2 separate regions of the Homo sapiens genome follow, and region 2 is linked to region 1. A link means that fine-mapping ties the variant in region 1 to the expression of a gene that starts in the linked region. Tissue or cell type: prefrontal cortex. Region 1 holds a variant in brackets; the other region holds the start of a gene. All regions are shown on one strand. Distances are between the middles of the regions.

Region 1 (2,680 bases):
TGTACAACAATAAGGAAATAAGTAAACAATGGTTAACCTACTGTGAAATATTACACAGCAATTAAAAGTAATGGTCATGGATGTCTGGTTCAAGATGGTTGGCTGACCACTTTCCTGAGACACCATTAAAATGACAAAGACATAAAAAAGCTACAGCCCACAATAAAGAAGGGAATGGAGGGTCCATTTGCAGTTGAAAGCTTCTGTCATACTTCTGGAAGGCACAAAGCAGATGGCAGTGATTAGTGAAACAGGGTAGAGACAACTGTAGGCTAAAGCAGTGTTGGTCTGTCAGAACAAACGTGTCCAGAAGCAGAGGCATTTCTGTGTTCAATGCTATTACAGAGAAACAAACATGTTAAAACACACACACACACACACACACACACACACACACACACACAAAGTGGCTGTACTATGAGCAAATTCTTCCTCCATTTTCTAAACTTTGTACAGATGGTTATATTATTTTTACAATAAAAAGTCTACAGCAAAGTATGGCAACTCCAGCTGAAATCAGATTTAAGGAGCACTAAAATGGAGGAGATACACATGTAAAGACATTAACATTTCTTAAGCACCTAATATAGGCAAGGCTTTGAACTATGCATTTTATGTTACCTAACACGTGAAATAGCTTCTCAAAGCAGGTGTTATCAACCCCCTTCTACATATAAGGAAACAGCCTCAGAGAGGTTAAGAAATGTGCCTAGGGTCACAGTTAAAAAGTGACAAGAGGCCAGGCACAGTGGCTCAAGCCTGTAATCCCAGCACTTTGGGAGGCCAAGGCAGGTGGATTGCTTGAGGTCAGAAGTTTGAGACCAGCATGGCCAACATGGTGAAGACCTGTCTCTACTAAAACTACAAAAATTAGCTGGGCGTGGTGGTACATGCCTGTAGTCCGAGTTACTCGGGAGGCTGAGACAGGAGAATTACTTGAACCGGGGAGGCAGAGGTTGCAGTGAGCCAAGATCGCGCCACTGCACTCCAGCCTGGGTGACAGAGTAAGACTCTGTCTCAAAAAAAAAAAAGCAATAAGAGCCAGGCACAGTGGCTCAAGCGTGTAATCCTAGCACTTTGGGAGGCCGAGGCAGGCGGATCACTTGAGGTCAGTTCAAAACCAGCCGGGCCAACATGGTGAAACTCCATCTCTACTAAAAATACAAAAAAATTAGCCAGCCCTGGTGGCAGACACCTATAATCCCAGCTACTTGGGAGGTTGAGGTAGGAGAACTGCTTGAACCCAGGAAGTGGAGGTTGCAGTGAGCCGAGACTGCGCCACTGCACTCCAGCCTGGGCGACAGAGTTAGACTCCCATCTAAAAAAAAAAAGTGACAAGAATGAGA[T/C]GCTGTCTGACTTCAAATCCCTTGCTCTTCTTTCCATATCCCGATCCCATCTCACCACTTCAGCGGATGTCACCAAATAAAATCAATCCATGTTGAAATGGCACTAAGCTTCATGGCCGGGATTAGGCAAGAGCAATTCTCAGAGTTTGAGAAAGCTCTGAGAAGCATGAAAAGGGACCTTCAAGGGACAAATACCTTCCTGTGATTCTTCGGATCAGCAGAGAGTCTGGGATGCTGAATTCAATCACAGAATCAAGCTTCTCTTTCCTCTTCTCCATGAGGTCATCGAGCTGTAAAAGAATGTGTGGCCCACCTAAGCTACCAGAGCTTGGTTAGACCCATCTCCTTCAAAGGAATTAAGAAAGACAAAGGACAAGAATTTGGTTTCATGCAGTAGTAATATAAAAACTAAGCTACCCACCATTTCTGCCTGCCTCACAGTCCGAGGGAAGCCATCCAGAAGAAAACCATTTTTGCACAAGGGGGTCTCCAAATTCTTCTCAATGAGCTCCACTACCATTTCATCACTCACCTGGAAGTTAGGAACAAAATAGCCTTGGGTTTAAATCCATTACCTAGGTGACTGACATTAGCCCAACTCCACAGCCAAAAGTTTGTGTATATAACCTTATTACTAAACAGCAAGTTTTCTTGGACCCAAAGAAGCAAAAATAAAAGCAAACGTGAAATGGCTCCATTTGGAAGATCCAGTTTCATAATTTTATCTCTGTGGTTGCCAAATACACACTCTCGTCTCTTGAAATTCTCCTGTATCCCAAAAATCTGGGTGAGGGAAGACAGATTCCATTACTTGTTACTTCACCAGGAGAGCTTTGTATCTTAGGTCCTGAAGGTCCCTCCTGCCACTAGAGTCCAGAGTCCAAACTGTCAGATAACAGCTTATCAGCAATCAGTGATCCTCAAGGCACAGGAAATGTGAGGACAAATGGCTGACAGACCACCTGAGAGAGTGCCAGGAGAGAATGGGGTTGACCAAAACACAGGCATCAGCTTTCCCTGTTCCACAGCTGTCATTAGGCTAACAGTAACGTGACTGATGTGTGTACTTGGTTACACATCTGGGCCATCCTGGACATGAGGAAACAGAGAAGTTCACTGAATTGGCAAGATTGGGTCAGAACCAAGGAACTGAAGAGCCAAGCCAACACTCTTCCCTCACTTTTTTTTTTTTTTTTTTTTTTTTGAGACAGTCTCATTCTGTTGCCCAGGCTGGAGTACAGTGGCACAATCTCCCCTCACTGCAACCTCCACCTTCCAGGTTCAGGTGATTCAAGTGCCTCAGCCTCCCAAACAGCTGGGACTACAGGCGCACA
Region 2 (2,680 bases), 120 kb before region 1:
ACAGACTTGCTGTGTGACCATGCACCAGCCCCTCCCCTCTGGGCCCCAAGTTCCACATCTATAAAATGGGGAGGCATTGGTCCAGCCAGTGTCTGAGACCCCTGGAGACTGCAGGACCCTCTGGAGCTGAACCAGGTCTAGCAGAAGCAGAGGGCAGACGATGGGCTGGACAGGCACCATGAGACTGGAATAGCATTGTGAAGATGGACTGCCAGCCAAGCAGGAAGGGGCATGGCAGCTTCAGCGCAGGAGCCTGACCCACCTCACCCCCTCCACCCACCTACCTGGGAGCTCGGTGTCTACCTTCCAGCTGAGGGCTGGACTCAATAACAACAGCATCCCAGGACCAAGACTTTGGTCAAAGAGGAGGCACGGTGCCAGCATGGGGCTGTGCCTGGAGCACTGGACTGAGCCTGGAGCAGTCCTTGACTTTTTAAATTAAATTGATTGAGACAGGGTCTTACTCTGTAGCCCAGGCTGGAGTGCACTGGCCTGATCGTGGCTCACTGAAACCTCTGCCTCCTGGGCTCAGGTGATCCTTCCACCTCAGCCTCCTGAGTAGCCGGGCTAAATTTTTTTTTCTTTATTTAAATTTTTTGTAGAGACGGATTTCACTATGTTGGCCAGGCTAGTCTCTCCTGGACTCAAGCGATCCGCCTGCCTCGGCCTCCCAGAGTGCTGCCTCCCAGATGAAGCCCAGCTGGCTTCATTTGTCTTACCACTGTGGGAGCGCATAGCAGCGCAGCCGGCAAGGTGCTAAGCGCTTTACTCTTAGAAGCTGCCCTCATCCTCATAGTAGTCCTAGGAGGTGGGAACTACTGTCCCCCTCTTACAGACAAAGAAACTGAGGCTCACAAGGTCTCTCGGCTAGACAGCGGGGATGCCCCAGGACTCTGCTGCCCACAAGCAGCATCACCGTGCCCAGGCAGTGGAAGGAGGGGGCACATTAGTCCCGCTCCCCCGCTGCTGATCCTTTTTGCCCACGGCTTTCCTTCCTGGCCTCGGGAGAGTGGAGAGTATGTAAGTGGGAGCCCCTTGTAAGGGTGGGGAAGCTGAGGCCTGGCCCCGGGGTCCCTTCTGGGTAAGATGGGGCTGCTCTCTCCAGCGTCTCCTCTGCCGCCCACCCGGGGGTCCCCGAGGGCAGTCGTGCGCCTCCGCAGGAAAGGCAAGAGAGGGCGAGGGTAAGAGACGCTACAGCCACATCGAGAAGACACCCGCAGCGCTCCTCCCCTCCATTTCACTGCTGGGGAAACTGAGGCCCAGAGAGGAAAGTGACCCGACCCCGGCCTCGTAGTAAGTTAGAGGCAGAGCAGGTGGCCTGGCCCCCTGGGGGCTCGGGTTCCGGGCTCAGTGCTCCGCTCCTGTGGGAGGGTTGGGGTGGTTCGGGGCCTCCCGCGCGCCCCCAGTCGCTCACCGAGGCGCAGACACATGTCGGCTCCGCGCTGGTCCCGCCCCCGGCTTCAGCGCGGCTCCCGAGGCTGCGGGCCGCCGGGGGACCCTGCTCCCATCCCGCTGGCCCGTCGCCCGCGCGCCCCGCACCGTCGCGCTCGCCCACTTCCCGCCCGGAGCCCGGGGCTGGGCGGCGCCGGACCGGCCTCCCTTCCCGTCACCCCCCGGGCCGCCCGGCCCCGCAGCGCCCCCGCGGCTCGTGCCCCTCCCGGCCGGTCGGACCGGCTGAGCAGCCCATGGCCCGCCCGCTGAGTCAGGCGCCGCCCCGCCCGGCCCGCCCGGCGCCGAGCCGCCCTCCCTCAGCCCACCGGCGGCGGCGGGCCCGCTCTAGAAAGGGAAACTGAGGCTCTGAGGAGCCGCCCCGCGCGGGCCCGCGGCAAGTTGGGGGTTGCCGGCGTAGCTGTGGTTACCGTGACTTGGGTGTGGCTCTTGGGCGGAAAGCCCCCGGGCCCAAGGCTGGGACGGAGAGGGGCAGCAGGGGCAGTGAAAGAGCTGCTGGGGATTGGGGTCTGCCCCTGCCTGCTGTGTGACCTCAGGCAAATCGCCTCCCCTCTCTGCGCTTGCCTTTAGCGCCCGCGAGTCTTGTCTTCCACGCTGAAAAAGGCGCTTTAAGTCTCCTTCTTAGTCGGGAGGGCCTTCAGTTCCGTCCTTGGAAAATCAGGGATAATTCCTGTCCCCGAAGGTCGTGGTGAGACAAAATAGGATACAAAAATTAGGTAAGAAAGCGCTTTCGGCCGGGCGCGGCGGCTCATGCCTGTAATCTCAGCACTTTGGAAGGCCTAGGCAAGCAGATCACCTGAGGTCAGGAGTTCGAGACCTGCCTGGCCATCATGGTGAAACACCCCCGCACCCCCCCCCCCGCCCCGTCTCTACTAAAAATACAAAAATTAGCCGGATGTGGTGGGGCAAGCCTGTAATCCCAGCTACTCTGGAGGCTGAGGCAGGAGAATCGCTTGAACCCGGGAGGCAGAGGTTACAGTGAGCTGAGATCTCGCCACTCCATCTCAAAACAACAAAACAACAACAACACGCTTTGGAAACTCTCCAGACTGTCTGTATGGACAAAGTGTAGACCTAGCAAGAGCACATAGTAGGAGCTTTATTAGTACTGCTCTGGGTTGCTGAGCCCTTTAATGTGTCAGGATGGACCCCAGTGAGGTCCCTTGTTAGTCTCAGCATCCCTTTGGCATAGGTACCATTCCTGCACCTTTGGGCTCAGAGACCACAGACC

Which allele goes with the higher level. Alleles are on the strand shown, and positions count from the first base shown. SD is a standard deviation of normalised expression in the study named.
With allele C in place of T in region 1, the expression in prefrontal cortex of the gene that starts at base 1,581 in region 2 is lower (large effect, 1.3 SD a copy in GTEx).

Evidence for each region. PIP is the estimated chance that this variant, and not a neighbour inherited with it, causes the effect.
Region 2: TMEM54 starts here. The variant in region 1 is fine-mapped to the expression of TMEM54 in prefrontal cortex (GTEx, PIP above 0.99).

The regions. Positions count from the first base shown.
Region 1 is chr1:33,019,826-33,022,505 of GRCh38, forward strand. It overlaps AK2 (adenylate kinase 2), which reads right to left. Exons shown (of 6, transcript NM_001625.4): 3 at 1,768-1,878; 4 at 1,542-1,636. Among named protein-coding and RNA genes, the nearest start is that of AK2, 16 kb to the right of the region's middle. The variant T/C (reference allele first, on the strand shown) is at 1,347.
Region 2 is chr1:32,899,809-32,902,488 of GRCh38, forward strand. TMEM54 (transmembrane protein 54) reads right to left here and starts at 1,581. Exons shown (of 6, transcript NM_033504.4): 1 at 1,415-1,581. The coding sequence starts at 1,430. It overlaps LOC105378632 (a long non-coding RNA gene), which reads right to left. Exons shown (of 3, transcript XR_947161.3): 3 at 1,849-2,119. RefSeq lists a silencer at 1,571-1,710.